3 separate regions of the Homo sapiens genome follow, and all the other regions are reported to be linked to region 2. The links are microRNA targets in miRTarBase. Many come from high-throughput screens and were not tested one by one. Region 2 holds a microRNA gene; each other region holds the end of a gene's coding sequence.
Evidence for each region. The annotated mature microRNA hsa-miR-5189-5p reads UCUGGGCACAGGCGGAUGGACAGG and lies in region 2 at 1,442-1,465, shown strand. An mRNA with a match to its seed (bases 2 to 7 or 8) in the 3' UTR can be bound and repressed. Matches are read on the target gene's strand: a 7mer-m8 pairs with bases 2 to 8, a 7mer-A1 pairs with bases 2 to 7 and ends in A, and an 8mer does both.

Region 1: the mRNA of GOSR1 is a reported target of hsa-miR-5189-5p. Seed matches in the 3' UTR shown: 7mer-m8 at 1,362-1,368 and 7mer-m8 at 2,036-2,042.
Region 3: miRTarBase lists LIMD1 as a target of hsa-miR-5189-5p. Seed matches in the 3' UTR shown: 7mer-m8 at 1,166-1,172 and 7mer-m8 at 997-1,003.

The regions. Positions count from the first base shown.
Region 1 is chr17:30,521,681-30,526,680 of GRCh38, forward strand. It overlaps GOSR1 (golgi SNAP receptor complex member 1), which reads left to right. Exons shown (of 9, transcript NM_001007025.2): 9 at 574-5,000. The coding sequence ends at 698. Among named protein-coding and RNA genes, the nearest start is that of GOSR1, 47 kb to the left of the region's middle.
Region 2 is chr16:88,467,502-88,472,677 of GRCh38, forward strand. It overlaps MIR5189 (microRNA 5189), which reads left to right and starts at 1,417; the gene lies at 1,417-1,530. All of the region lies in intron 1 of ZFPM1 (zinc finger protein, FOG family member 1), which reads left to right.
Region 3 is chr3:45,676,523-45,681,522 of GRCh38, reverse strand. It overlaps LIMD1 (LIM domain containing 1), which reads right to left. Exons shown (of 8, transcript NM_014240.3): 8 at 1-4,601. The coding sequence ends at 4,464. LIMD1-AS1 (LIMD1 antisense RNA 1) reads left to right here. Exons shown (of 3, transcript NR_033947.1): 2 at 1,452-2,477; 3 at 2,592-3,358. Among named protein-coding and RNA genes, the nearest start is that of LIMD1-AS1, 9.9 kb to the left of the region's middle.

The DNA of each region.
Region 1 (5,000 bases), not on the chromosome of region 2:
TTGAAAATATTAATAATTCACCAGTGTCTGATTATATAGACCTTAGAGTTGGTTCCCATGAATTGCCTGAATCTAAGGCGGGAAAAGATCAGGTATTTCTTCAAACTCTCAGGCAGAACTCCCCAGTCTCCTGAGAGAAGAGGAAAAGAGAAGGAAAATGAGGAAAGGGAGGGAAATGGGTGGTGGTGGCGATGGGAGCTGGCTATGCCTGTGCCTCCCTGCCAGAGTTCCTCCATTCCTGGCCACGCTGGCTCCCACCCTGACCTGAAGCCTGGCAGTAAGCCCTCAGTGCTTGGGAACTGTCATCGTCCTTTTCTTCTCCCTCTCTCTCTATTACTATTCTTATTTGTGTTACACACAAGACTGGGAGATGTGTATTGGTTAGGGGCCTTGAGCCGCAGCGCGTTCCCGGTTTGGGCAACTGCATCTGCTAAAGATTCCCTTGGTGTGAGTTTCTTCCCCATGCCTTTCATCACTGTTTCTAGACACCACTGATCTCTATTTTTGTGATTCCTACGACTTTTCGCCAGAGAGGCTTCTTCCAAATATGACCTTAATAAAGATTTCCCAAAGATCGTTTTCCTGCTGTAAACAGCCTGATCCAGAGGATCAACCTGAGGAAGCGGCGGGACTCGCTCATCCTAGGGGGTGTTATTGGGATCTGTACCATCCTGTTGCTGCTGTATGCGTTCCATTGATGGGACATCTTCAGGGACTCTTGACAGCCACCGCTTTCACACCCTGGTCTGGAATAAGGAAACATCGGAGGGAGAAGTTGACTGTCTTGATAATTAGCCTGACCAGCAGGATGAATGCAAGACTGACAGTGATGGACTCTGTGACATGGTCAGGTTGAGCTGAAGCCACAGTTTCTCTGTGCTGTGTTTTCTAACACATTTTTCTGTTTTTAATTAAAAAAAAAAAAAAAAGGTTTTCAGTTGCTTTTGTCTCCCTAGGAGGCAGGTAAACCAATCAAAAACAGAGTTTTCTGTGTTTCCATGATAGTGTTGAAGCCTAATGACAAGCCAGGTCTTACAGCTGGGCTCTTCAGAAAACCAGGTTTCTACATCCAAAGACTGCTTTTCTTTTAGCTGCCAGATTGGATTGTGAATAAAAATAATTCTTCCCTCTCCCTCTCCCTCTCCCCACGGTCTCCCTCTTTCCACGGTCTCCCTCTGATGCCGAGCCGAAGCTGGACTGTACTGCTGCCATCTCGGCTCACTGCAACCTCCCTGCCTGATTCTCCTGCCTCAGCCTGCCGAGTGCCTGCAATTGCAGGCGAGCGCCGCCACGCCTGACTGCCTCGGCCTCCCGAGGTGCCGGGATTGCAGACGGAGTCTCGTTCACTCAGTGCTCAATGGTGCCCAGGCTGGAGTGCAGTGGCGTGATCTCGGCTCACTACAACCTCCACCTCCCAGCCACCTGCCTTGGCCTCCCAAAGTGCCGAGATTGCAGCCTCTGCCCGGCCGCCACCCCGTCTGGAAAGTGAGGAGCGCCTCTGCCCGGCCGCCATCCCATCTAGGAAGTGAGGAGCGCCTCTTCCCAGCCGCCATCCCATCTAGGAAGTGAGGAGCGTCTCTGCCCGGCCGCCCATCGTCTGAGATGTGGGGAGCGCCTCTGCCCCGCCGCCCCGTCTGGGATGTGAGGAGCTCCTCTGCCCGGCCGCGACCCCGTCTGGGAGGTGAGGAGCGTCTCTGTCTGGCCACCCCGTCTGAGAAGTGAGGAGACCTCCGCCCGGCAGCCGCCCTGTCTGAGAAGTGAGGAGCCCCTCCGCCCGGCAGCCACCCCATCTGGGAAGTGAGGAGCGTCTACGCCCGGGCAGCTGCCCCGTCCGGGAGGGAGGTGGGGGGGTCAGCCCCCCGCCCGGCCAGCCGCCCCGTCCGGGAGGGAGGTGGGGGGGATCAGCCCCCCGCCCGGCCAGCCGCCCCGTCCGGGAGGGAGGTGGGGGGCGCCTCTGCCCGGCCGCCCCTGCCCGGCCGCCCCTACTGGGAAGTGAGGAGCCCCTCTGCCTGGCCACCACCCCATCTGGGAGGTGTGCCCAGCAGCTCATTGAGAACGGGCCATGATGACAATGGCGGTTTTGTGGAATAGAAAAGGCGGAAAGGTGGGGAAAAGATTGAGAAATTGGATGGTTGCCGTGTCTGTGTAGAAAGAAGTAGACATGGGAGACTTTTCATTTTGTTCTGTACTAAGAAAAATTCTTCTGCCTTGGGATCCTGTTGATCTATGACCTTACCCCCAACCTGGTGCTCTCTGAAACATGTGCTGTGTCCACTCAGGGTTAAATGGATTAAGGGTGGTGCAAGATGTGCTTTGTTAAACAGATGCTTGAAGGCAGCATGCTCCTTAAGAGTCATCACCACTCCCTAATCTCAAGTACCCAGGGACACAAACACTGCGGAAGGCGGCAGGGTCCTCTGCCTAGGAAAACCAGAGACCTTTGTTCACTTGTTGATCTGCTGACCTTCCCTCCACTATTGTCCTATGACCCTGCCAAATCCCCCTCTGCGAGAAACACCCAAGAATGATCAATTAAAAAAAAAATAATATAATAATAATTCTTGTCCTCTTATTTTACACTCATAATGAGAAATCACAAGTTCTTTCTTGATGATCTGTGCTATAGATTTCTACTCTGTCTCCTCAACTCTGTTGATATTTGGGGAAAATTCTGTTTTTCATAGATTCTTTGAGATGCTGATGGACCAGCTTCAGCATGTTTGAGGTTGTCTGAAATGGAGATCACTGTAAAACTGTCTTTTTCTTTTAAATTACAAGTACACTGGGGTTAACTGTATTGCTGGAAAAACATCAAGAATGACAGTCTTATATTTAAGGCACCAGTCATTGTTTCCATTTTTTTTTTAATTCTTCCCTTGGATTAATATTTTCTACTGAAAAGAAATGAAATCTCAGTTCCACTATGATAAAAGAAACGAATCACCAGTGTCTGTCAGTGCCCCCACTGCTCCTCCTCATACCAGCATTGACACTGGTAGCTGAGGAAGGGGACTGCTCAATTTCTAATGTGATCTATTCAAGAAGCCACATATAAAAAGGCATTGAGGGCTCACTGTCCAGAGAATTGCTTTTGTAAATGCTCCACAACGTATGGGCAAAAGTTTAAGGACTACTGCCTGATGTACCAGGAATCCTGAGTTCTGTGAAAATCTGTTCATTCCAAATCTGTTAAGCATTTCCAAACATCCAGAGAATGGTTTCACTGTTGAGGGTGCATGTGGCAGAATCTGTCTCTCTCTGCACCTGTCTTCTGTTACCATCCCTGGACAGTGACAGATTTTAAGCCAGCCACCAGAATTCTTTTCGAGTTAACCATTTCTTAGTTTCTGTAAATTCATGACTTGTCTTACTGAACTACAGCCTGGTTTGTAGACTTCCAACATCTACACTGCTGCTCTTCACCATTGGAATTCACTGTGGTATTTATAGTATTGGCTTCAGTCCGAGCCACAGGCAATAAAAGGATATCAGCTGTAGTTCTCAGCTACATCATGGTGTATAGATGCTGTTATTCAGGCGAACTTGCTCATGGGTGGACTAACACCTGGTTTGGTACAGAGACTGAGAAGTTTTTCATTCTGGTGTCAAAGTTTTGTTACATTATGGGTGTGAAGGGCATTTGATATATTTTTCTTAACTATGGGGTTTATTTTTCTAAATGTGGGTTGATTGACTGTTAATTGATTCAGGGTACCCTTAAAAGAAAAGAAGTTTTCCCATTGTGAACCTTAAATGATCAGAGAAGTAAGTTCATTGATTAAATTCTCTGTTGGGAGAACAAAACTTTTCTCCCTTGACACTTTATTATCTTTGATTTTTCAAAGGGCCTTGATTGGTGGTTGTGTCTCGGTTAAAATTTATGGGACTTTGCTATGTAGTTGGCATTTATAAAATCTGAAGTATCATAAATAAAGTTATTTATTTAATTATACTACCAGTCTTTTTTACTGGTCTGATTCTTTTGTGCATTCATTAAAGCTGATTGTGTGAGAGTGAACTGGGACACAAGCTAGTCTAGCTCACTGCAGCCAAGCAAACCCTGTTGATGGCTGATGGGCCTTTCCATTAGGGTTTTGCTTATGTGAAGTAATGGAATTATGTTGGTTATTTTCTTTATGAAAATAAACCAGTTCTTCCAAGGAAGTTAAAAGGCTTGGTATGGATGTTGGTGTCAGATAGGTCTGACTAACCTCTCCGTGCTGCAGCCTATACTAAGGTGACCCAGGGCCACATGTAGACAGCTAGGCCAGTGCTTTTTCCTCTTAGGGTTTCTTTGCAGAAAGAAACCTCCAGCAAGGGAAGAGAGGTGTGTGTCCACAGGAAGGGGCTCCGTGGGGATCCCATGAAGGGATTTGAGCTCTTTCAGCTCCATGTCATTTAACTTTTTTGTTTAACCACCTTGGCTTTCTCTCCTTTTTTGCTGTCCTCCTTACGGACCAGTTACCAGATTCAGAGGCTAACAGTTAGTTACTTGTTAATGCTAGTCACAGCCAGGAGGTCAGAAGGAATTTTCTACTTCTGGATCCAAATGTTACCTCTTAGGGGAAGTTATGCCCCCTCAACTATTGTCTTATTATAATGAATCTTTCCTTTTTGGTCCTTTTAAGTAACCACTCAAAACTTTTCATTTCACTGAAAAAATATGAAAAACCATGACAATAGGGCTGGGTGCAGTGGCTCACGCCTGTAATCTTAGCACTTTGGGAGACCAAGGCAGGCGGATCGTTTGAGGCCAGGAGTTTGAGACCAGCCTGGGCAATGTAGCAAGACTCTGTCTCTGCAAAAAAAATTAAAAGATACCTGAGAGCTCACTTTAATATCAAGGTATTTGCATCCATTCCCACCCTGTTAGCTCTTAAGGGAGGAGGGAAATCAATTCCAACCATACTTTCCTGTGATGGAAGATGTTTCCTCTTGAAAAAATGCCAATACAGATTTTTAAAACCTATTGTTTTCCAAATGCACTTTGTAAGTTTTTG
Region 2 (5,176 bases):
CTATAAAATGGGGTGCCAGTCGCCCTCTCAGAGTCCTTTCAAGGAGCTGATGGTGTAGACCGCGAGACCTGCCTTGCAGGGCACATGCGCAGCTGCTCCTGTCATGCTGGGACCTCCGGACCCCGGGCCTCGCAGCTGCCTTGGATCCCCTCCCTCCTCCAGTCACGGGCTCTGGGCTGGCTGCTGGGCGTGTTGGGCACAGCGGGCCCTAAGCTGACCCGTGCCCTTTGTGGCTGGGACCTGAGATGGGGAGGCCCCCACCCCCTAGTTCCATGGCTTTGGGAGGTGGGGGTGGGGTGTTTTCTACTCTACCACCCTACAACGAAAAAGAAGAAAAGAGAACTTGATAAAAAAGGGCGATGCGTGCTGTGCGGTGGAGGAGGTGCTATCGCCGTTATCTATCTGCTTGCTCGAGCTGAGCGGCCCCCCTTCCCCTTATCTCACCCCACCCTAATGCCAGGAACAAAAGTGAGAACACACTCTCAACCCGCACACCCGCGAGCCCCCCACCGCCCCTCACACACCCGCGAGCCCACCGCCCCTCACGCCCCCGCGAGCCCACCGCCCCGACCCACCCGCGAGCCCACCGGCCGCTGACGCACCTGCGAGCCCACCGCCCCTCACGCACCCGCGAGCCCACTGCCCCTGACCCACCCGCGAGCCCACAGGCCCTGACGCACCCGCGAGCCCACCGCCCCTCAAGCACCCGCGAGCCCACCGCCCCTCAAGCACCCGCGAGCCCACCGTCCCGACGCACCCGCGAGCCCACTGCCTGCGGCGCACAGAGCCACCAGATCTAGAGGGAGAGCTGAGCACTCGGGGTGCTCTGAAAGTCATCATCATCATCATTTTGCAAAGAAAGCCCCCAAATAGCCCTCCCTGAAACAAGGCAGCCAAAAATAAGAAGTCGCTCTCAACAGGCCCCCACAGGAGAAAAGAGGCCGGCCTTGGAGAGGGGTTGGGACTTGGGGCCAGGTCCCAGCTGTGCCGGCCTCTTGGCTGTACGACCTTGGACCAGTATCTTTCCCACTCAGAGTCATCCCTGAATGGATGTCAGGGAGCCTTCGAGGAAAGGGGAGAGCCTGCACTGTAACTGAAGCCCCCCACCAGCCCCATGCAGCTTTCTGACCCTAGACTTGGGGCTGGGACCAGTCACCCAGAATCTGATACCCCCAGGGCCCCGCCCCCCAGAGCCCCACCCCCATGGCCAGGGCACCACTGTCCTAACCAGCCTGTTGGCAGCCAATGGAAATGGGGTATGCAAATGAGCAGGGGTGAGGCCCAGGGATTGGCTGAGCTGCTGTGTGGGGGCAGGGCCTCCTCCAGGGGCTGCCCTTGACCTGGGGGAGTAGTTCCCATCCTGGACCCTGCCCCAGGACGGGAGACCTCTGCCACCACCACCACCGGCTCTGGAAGGGCCCGCCTTTTAGGGGCCTCGCTGTCTGGGCACAGGCGGATGGACAGGCTGGCCTCTGGATGACCTGCCAACCGTCAGAGCCCAGACCCACGTGGCCTCAGTTGGGGACCAGGACCCAGGAGTTCCCGAGAGGAGTGCAGCCAGCAGCCACTCCCAGATGGGAACAGCGAGTTTCACAACCCGGCAGGGACGGCCCTGGGGCCAGCCAGCCTCCCACCCCCATGTCTGGGCCCACTCCAGACCCTCCTGCAGGCTGCCCCCCACCGCTCCACCCTCTCCCCGCGCTGACTTCCATCCGGAACCTCATTCTGCCAAGCTTCTGAAGTGCCGGCCGGGCCAGGGACGTGGCACCATCTTAATGAATGACAGTCCCAACCCCTTTGCCCACCCTCAGCCTCCCCATCTGTAAAACCGGAAGGCGGTCTAGTAGGTCTGCCTCCCAGGATGGTTTCTGGGCTCTTCAGCAAGCCCCTTGCCGGCCTGGGCCTCAGTTTCCCCTTCCACACCATGAGGCTGAGGTGGCAGGTTCTCTGGGGGTCCTCCTGTCTGTGGCTGTGGCATAGCCTGGAAACCTGGGGTCTTCCAGATTTCCCATTGTCAGAAATTCATGTGCCAGGAGACCATGTCTACAGGGGGCTTAGGACACCTTAGGGGGCATGCACCTGTGTTCTGCATCCACCCACACTGCACAGTGGGTCTTGCTGGCAAGACCAGGATGAGGCAGGCTCCGCCGGCCTGAGACCTGGCTGGAGGCCCTGTCAGCTCCCACGGCACCTGAAAATCAGCCACAGGTGTGGGTGTTTGTCAAAAATGTGTAAGTGGAAAATAGTGGCGGGGCGAGGAGAGAAAGAGTCTGGGCTGAGATCTAAGGAGAGGAAGTAGGGAGGGGCCGTCCGACCAGAACCAGACATCACCTTGGCCAGGGCCCCACCCCCTAACGTGGGGTGCAGTGCCTCTCACGTGGTGAGGGTCAGAGGTGCGTGCCCAGCCCAGAGGATCTCCCCACGCAGCCCTCCCAGTCTGCAGAGGGGTCTCCACACATGCAGGCAGCTCTGTCCTCTCCCAGGACAGCTTGGGGCATACAGTAGGTGCTCCATAAATACTCCCCAGCTGATTTCTGGATCTGCTCCCTGTGCCTGGCTGTGTCCCCAGAGGCAAAGCAAGCAGAAGGAAAAAGGAAACGGAGAAAAAGCCAGGGCCTCCAGAGCCAGCATTGTCCTGGGCAAAGGCCCCTCCCGTGTAGGAGCATCGCCTGTGGAGAGCCACGGTCCTTGTCCCTGTGCTGGGGCTGTGACTCACTCCTGCGGGGTCCTTGCTGTCAGGGCCACCCCACCTGTCCTGGGGACAGGGCTGCTGGACGGGTTGGGGCGGGCAGCCTCTGGATGCCCACGGGTGTCCCCTGTACTCTCCAAACCTGTACTGAGTGCCTGCTGTGTGCTGGGCATGGTCCAGGGACCCCAGGTGACCTCATGGAACCCCAGCCTAACGAGGGAGAGTGAACACAGGGGTCTGACGTGCTCTGTGGCAGAACCACTGGGGAGGCTGTTGTTGGGGGACTGGTGGTGTGGAGGGCCGGGTGGTGACACTCAGTGACAGGTGAGGATGTGGCACGGTGTGGAGGGCCGGGTGGTGACGCTGAGTGACAGGTGAGGATGTGGCACGGTGTGGAGGGCCGGGTGGTGACGCTGAGTGACAGGTGAGGATGTGGCACGGTGTGGAGGGCCGGGTGGTGACGCTGAGTGACAGGTGAGGATGTGGCACGGTGTGGAGGGCCGGGTGGTGACGCTGAGTGACAGGTGAGGATGTGGCACGGTGTGGAGGGCCGGGTGGTGACGCTGAGTGACACGTGAGGATGTGGCACGGTGTGGAGGGCCGGGTGGTGACGCTGAGTGACAGGTGAGGATGTGGCACGGTGTGGAGGGCCGGGTGGTGACGCTGAGTGACAGGTGAGGATGTGGCATAGGGAAACACATCCTCGCCGAGCGCACAGTGGGAGCTCCGAGCAGGGGATGAGGTCGTCCAGGAAGGGGCGGGAGACGCAGCGTGACGCACTGACCCAGGGCCCAGCTCAGATGCCAGTACCTCACCCGGTGGGGTCCAGCCTCCGCGACAGGCATTCCCTTCCCCGTGTGCCCTTGCCAACTACATACTGGGCTGCCCAGAGGCTGCCTTCTGAAGGAGCGAGGGGGCCGGGAGGAGGAAAGCCCAGCTCCCCTGCAGCCATGATAGATAGACCAGACTTTTCCTCTCCACTTACTCCGCCCTGACCGCGATGGGCACTGAGAATTCAGACAAGAGCCGGACTCCCTGAGCTCCCAACCAGCTGACCCTCCAGGGCTGCAGCCATGTGTGACCTCCACCCTCGCGAAGGCCAGCGGCCGCAGGGTCTGGCTTGGGCTATAGCATCTAGGCTCTGAGATGACTGTGTCCGTGGCGGCTCCCGCTCACAGTTCAGGACCCCGAGATGACCGTGCCCACAGTGGCTCCCACGCATAGTGGGGGGGCCAAGACCCCAAGATGACCATGGCTGCGGTGGCTCCTGCTCACAGTGGGGGATGCCAGGACCCCGAGACGACCATGCCCACAGTGGCTCCCACGCATAGTGGAGGGGCCAAGACCCCAAGATGACCATGGCTGCGGTGGCTCCTGCTCACAGTGGGGGACGCCAGGACCCCGAGATGATCGTGGCTGTAGCGGCTCCCACTCACAGAGGTGGGGTCAGGGCCCCAAGATGACCGTGGCCGCGGTGGCTCCCACACACAGTGGAGGGGTCAGGGCTCCCGGCTCTAAAGCCACATGGCCTGGGCATGAATTCCTGCCCACCACTTACTCACACTGGGATCTGCCACAGACACCTGAGCCTGTGACTAAGACTAAGGCTGTGTGTCCATCTCTGTGAAATCGGGGCGAGGCCCCCGCGGGCTGGGAGGGCTCTGGGCCTCCGGCTGGCTGTGCACCATGTTCCACTGGGTTATTCCTGAGGGGACCTGCAGGTCCGCAAGAGCCTTGGGTGGGCCGGGGCAGGGGCCGTGTGGTCTGCAGGGAGTGGAGCCAGAAGCCTGGGCCTCCCCGGTAGGAGCCCGGCAGGGCCAAACCCTGATGGGCAGCGGAAGTCTGTTGGGGCCACTCTCAGGACAGGTCACCTCAGCTGGGCTCCCACCACCCATGGCCGCCGGTAACCCCACCCCATCTGTGGACCCAGTTCGTGGAGGGGGCGCAGGGCTGAACCCCAGCGAGCCCCAGCCTCAGTGTCCACACCCACAAGTGGCTGGAGGCACGGTGGTGGGCAGGGCAGGTGCCCACAGGGTGGGGCACACAGGCAGGGATGTGCCAGCTCTGCGCCTCGGTCCCAGGAGAAAGGGAAGAGGCACCAGAGCGCCTGCTGCCACCACAGCACAGAGAGGGTGGCATTTCCTGCTTTTTTGTTTGAATTTTCTTTTTTTTTTTTTTTTTTGAGACTGAGTCTCGCTGTGTCGCCAGGCTGGAGTACAGTGGTGTGATCTGGGCCCACTGCAACATCTGCCTCCCGGATTCAAGATATTCTCCTGCCTCAGCCTCCTGAGTAGCTGGGACTATAGGCGCCTGCCACCACGCCCAGCTAATTTTTGTATTTTTAGTAGAGACGGGGTTTCACCCTGTTGGCCAGGATGGCCTCCATCTCCTGACCTCGTGATCTGCCCGCCTCAGCCTCCCAAAGTGCTGGGATTACAAGCGTGAGCCACTGCGCCCGGCCTGAATTTTCTATTTTTTATTGTGGTA
Region 3 (5,000 bases), not on the chromosome of region 2:
GCTGATAATCTGGCCACTGCTATTGCTATAATAAACTGTCCTTTGTCTCTGACCTATGAGTCTCATAACTTCTGCCAGGATCCATGAACCCATGTGGTGTGCTCACTTTATTAGCCTGCAAGTAGGGTAAAATCTCATACCCTTCACAGGTTTGCTACCTATGTGGTACTTTTAAGAATCCAGAGCTGTAAAAGAAGACAAAGTCCAGGTAGCAAAAAACAGTTTGCTGACTCCACACACAGAAAAGACCCAGGAAATATAATGTTCAAGGAGCACTTTAATAGTCAACAAATTGATGCAGTTTTGTCACAATACTTTGCATAATTTTATAGTAACAGTAAAATTCTGAATCACTTTATAGTAAAAGAAAAGACACAGAGGAAAATAATTTCCCTGTACAATGAAATTTTCATACACTATATGAAGATTTCCCACATCTGTCAAGTTTTGGCTCAGAATAAAAGATAGCTAATATATTTCACTCTTTTTTCTGTTACTTTTTTTTTTTTTTTTGAGACAGTGTTTCGCTCTGTTGCCCAGGTCGGAGTGCAATGGCACCATCTCGGCTCACTGCAACCTCTGCCTCCCAGGTTCAAGCGATTCTCCTGCCTCAACCTCTCAGGTAGCTGGGATTACAGGCGTGCGCCACCAAACCCAGCTAATTTTGTATTTTTAGTAGAGACAGTGTTTCACCATGTTGGTCAGGCTGGTCTCTAACTCCTGACCTTAAGTGATCCACCCGCCTCAGCCTCTCAAAGTGCTGGGATTACAGGCGTGAGCCACGGCGCCTGGGATTACAGGCATGAGCCACTGTGCCTGGCCTTTTCTATTACCTTTAAAAGTTACTTCACATAGTAAAGAAATTAGGACTGATTCTTGGCATAAAGGAGGGTACAAAAAAAAATTGTGCCAGGTACAGTGGCTAATGGCCATAATCCCAACACTTTGGGAGGCGGAAGTGGGCAGATCACTTGAGCCCAGGAGTTCCAGACCATCCTGGGCAACATGGTGAAACTCGTCTCTATTAAAAATACAAAAATTAGCCAGGCGTAGCCAGTCATACACGCCTGTGGTCCCGGCTACTCGGGAGGCTGAGGTGGGAGGATCACTTGAGCCCAGTAGGTGGAGGCTGCAGTGAGCTGAGATCGCGCCACTGCACTCCAGCCTGGGCAACAGAGTGAGGCCCTGTCTCAAAAAAAAAAAGAAAAGAAAAGAAAATTTGGTTTCCTGGCAGATAGAGTTTTAACAAGCGCATCAAGCAGTAATAATTTGTGGTCTTGTGCTCAATTCTCACACATGATCTTTGCAAGCGTCCCAGCAGCCATCACAGCTCTACTTTCACATGCATGGGACACAGCACAGAGCAGCAGCCTTGAAAGGACTGCAAAGAGGTGTGAATTCCAAACATTCTCTTAAGTCCTAACATTTCTGTTCTTCATTTTGTGTGACAGAAGCCCATGGAAACAAGGCGATGACGGCGCTTGAGGGTGACCAGACCTCCTCAATCATTCCATCAGCCACCCAGGACTCAACAGCAGAACCTCAGAGGACTCAGCTGAAAGAGGTTTTCACTCGAGCACTAACCACAGAGAAATGGGAAGTGCCATCCTGCTGTCATACGCAGCCGATGGCTGGGTAGGACTAAATGCCCTTCTGTGGTGAGATGAACCAAGACGGCAGATGGGGGAATAACATCAGTGAGAGAGAGATTACGAATGGATCCTTGTATTGCAGATCAAACTGGGTTGTCTCTTCTCAAACCACCCAGGCAGTTTCTGAATGTCCCAAGATAGGGGTAGGAGAAAAGAAAAAAAAGACAAAACAGGAGACGGTGGGTAAGAAAACCTAAAAGGCACAATGAGGCAAAGGCCTAAGATGGAGGCTGGCTTTGGGATCTGAAATCCGGCCACAATCCTCCTTGTTTTACCTCAAGTCCAAGAATTGTCAAAAAGAAAACCCAGAAGGGCTATTCATTCTAAATTTTAAAATCTTTTCTTCCTGGCCTACCAAGTCCTTGTGTTTTCTTTCTAGGCGCCCATAAATACAACCCCATTACAGTTCTATTTGGCTAATAATTTACAGAACATTTAAAATACCGGGTAGGTGAACATCTCTTCATGGCTTTTGTGTAAGGGCCTGAAGCGAAGAGAAAAACAACTGATTGGAGATTCCTATCTGGCGCCTTCTCCAGGGAAACTGACAACCAGAGAAATCTGTTGCTAGGATTTCTAGGACATCTGGAAATTCCCTTTTTGTTCTTTCTCAACAATATAAAATGGTATATTCGCAAACCTATCTGAATCACCTCAATCTAGGCCACTTTGAAAATTTCATTTAAAAATGTAATCACAGATTTTTAAACTAATTACCCAATTTGCAAACAAATCCCAGCTACTTCTGGTCTTGAACATGGAGCAAAGGTGTGTCAGTAAGGCCAACATTCTTAGGTTGACAGAGACAGGTTAACACATTGGCTGGCTTCATTTACCCCCCTGCCACGCCCCACACTGAGCTGGATGATTTGATGGGAAGAGAGGGTCCCCACCTCAGGGTTCACTTCCCCAGCCCCAGCGTTCATGGGTTTTCAGGAGGCTCAGCCTGTGAAAAAGAACCAATGATGATGCACACCCTGGCTGAAGTGACATCTGGCCAAAGGATTCCAACAGAATGAATTCCATCAACATGGAAAAGATAATCCATGGCACCAATTCTGTGCTGCTTACAGGCAATGGTTACCAAATGAGTCAAAACATGGCCTAGAAGTGGAGCCGGGCCCAATGAAAAGCCTGAGTTCACACGTGCTAGGGGCTCCACTGACCGGCCTCTGCAGCCCAGCACCCAGTCCTCTTGCTCTGGGTGCAAGGTGAGGAGGCAGAGTGCACACACCGGCTCCTGTGTCCCCGGCCTGGCTGGCAATGGTAAAATGGGCTGCCTTTCTTTTGCAGCTTCTTCTAATCGAAATACCAAAGGGTACTGACCTCTGGCCTCAGGGATGTGACTTGCAGTGCAAATTTTACCTCTTCAGTGCAGAGAGTGGTCTTGAAATCTTGCCAGTGTGTGGCCCTCCCTCAGCTCCTGCCACCCTGGGGAGCCAGGATGCTGAAATGCATAAGGCAAAAGCACTGAATCGGATCTATTCCCCACTGACCTTTAGTTACGATCACTCTGCCCTGACCAGCTGGAGTTGGGCCTGTGTGAAGCCAGTGATTTCCAACACACTGAAGAAGGTATCTGAGTCCAGTGTGAAAGCCAAATTCCTCCTGAATCTGTGATTTGGTGAAGCTCTGTGAGGTATTTTTTGTGTGTGGAAGACTGAAAGTGAAGGGAAACAACTAAAAAAATTAAACAGACAAAAGCAGTGTACCTTATCCTGGTTTCTTCAAACATAATGCCTGTGCCAAGAATTGGGCAGGAGAGAAACCAACGAAATGAATATAATAACTTATCCTGAGGCGCTCCCTCCCACGCTGGCTTAGAGATCTCGCACACACAAAAACTCTCCTTGTTTATAAGAAGCTGTCTCTCAGTATGCGGGCAGCTCTTCCCAAAAGCCCGTCATTAAATAAGCTAAAAACAGGTGCAAGCGATGTACCTGCATGGGTTCCTGAGACTTGCCTTGCAGAAGCGGCCTTCCAAGTCACCAACTCTTGAGAACTCCAGAGAAAAACAGCGCAAACACGTGGGCAAAAAAAAAAATCCTGGTGCCTGCACCAAGTTCTTCTCCCAAAGTATGTTTTACTCACATAGGGCAAATTTCTGTCGCGGACTCAGCTGCCTTTAGGAGAGTAAGGATTTGAAGGGGTACAGAGAATGCTGTCAGTGTCTAAGGAGGAAACCCTGCCTCACCTATTTCAAATCTTGACTCTGGTTTTCTAAGCAAATTTATCTTAGGATACAAAGCACACATTAGAGCTTCCTTCTTGCCTTAATGCAATTAAATTTGCAGCCATTCTGCAGAAGAACTGAAGCTCTCAGGTGAAAAGAAGCCTTAAATCATGCCATGATATATGTCGGGGGAGGGAACATTTGGGTATAGGTATTTTCCTGAAGGAAGAGAAAGGGTTGAATGTATTGGCAGCTGAGCTGTCCCTTCAAGGGGATATTGTGAAACAAGCTCAATAAAAACCTCTCCCTCTGAAGCATGAAATGTTCCCAGAGGGGACAGGAGGATTCCTTTGGTGCTATGATGCAACCTCAGGTCATGTGCTCGCACATGCTGGAGCATTTTCCTGAGTAACCTGAGGAAAATGTGGCAACAGAGAAAAGCACTTGGAAAATACACGCAGGAGGCAGGTAGTGTTCACCTCCCTGGTTAAAGGAAAGGCACCCCCCACATGCTCACAGGAACTCTCCCTCCTGCCCCTCCTCTTCCCCTACCCCACTTCCACCCCAGGGGCCACCGGAAGCAGCAGCAGCAACCCCGGCTCCTCATCCCCTGCCGTGATGTCTGCAAGTGGCTCTGGCTAGAAGTGGTGCTGGTGAAGGGCTGTAGATGAGGGTCTCTTCTCCAGCCTCTTCACGTGGCAGGAGTGACAGAACAGGTGGTCCTCCAGCGGATAACAGCGGTGGCCATCTTCATCATTGAGCTCCAGACCACAGTCCTGTGGGGAGGCAGACATGTCCAGGGGAAGCAAAACAAAACAGACTGCAAGACTGACCTGAAGGCCACAGTCCCCAAAATCAGCAGAGGGTGCTGTGTGTTTCTGTATAGGCAGGAAATGCCAGTGCAGAAACACAGCTCCTGCCCCGTGGAGGCCTGTCCAACACAGGAGACACTGCCACAAGGCACTTGCTGTGAACCACTTAAAATGTGCTGTCAGTGTAAATGCAGATTCCGAAGACTTAGGACAAAAAGAGGATGTAAAAATATCTCATGGGAAAAAGGAATGAGATCATGTCCTTTGCAGGGACATGGATGAAGCTGGAAGCCATCATTCTCAGCAAACTAACAAAGGAACAGAAAACTAAACACCACATGTTCTCACTCATAAGTGGGAGTT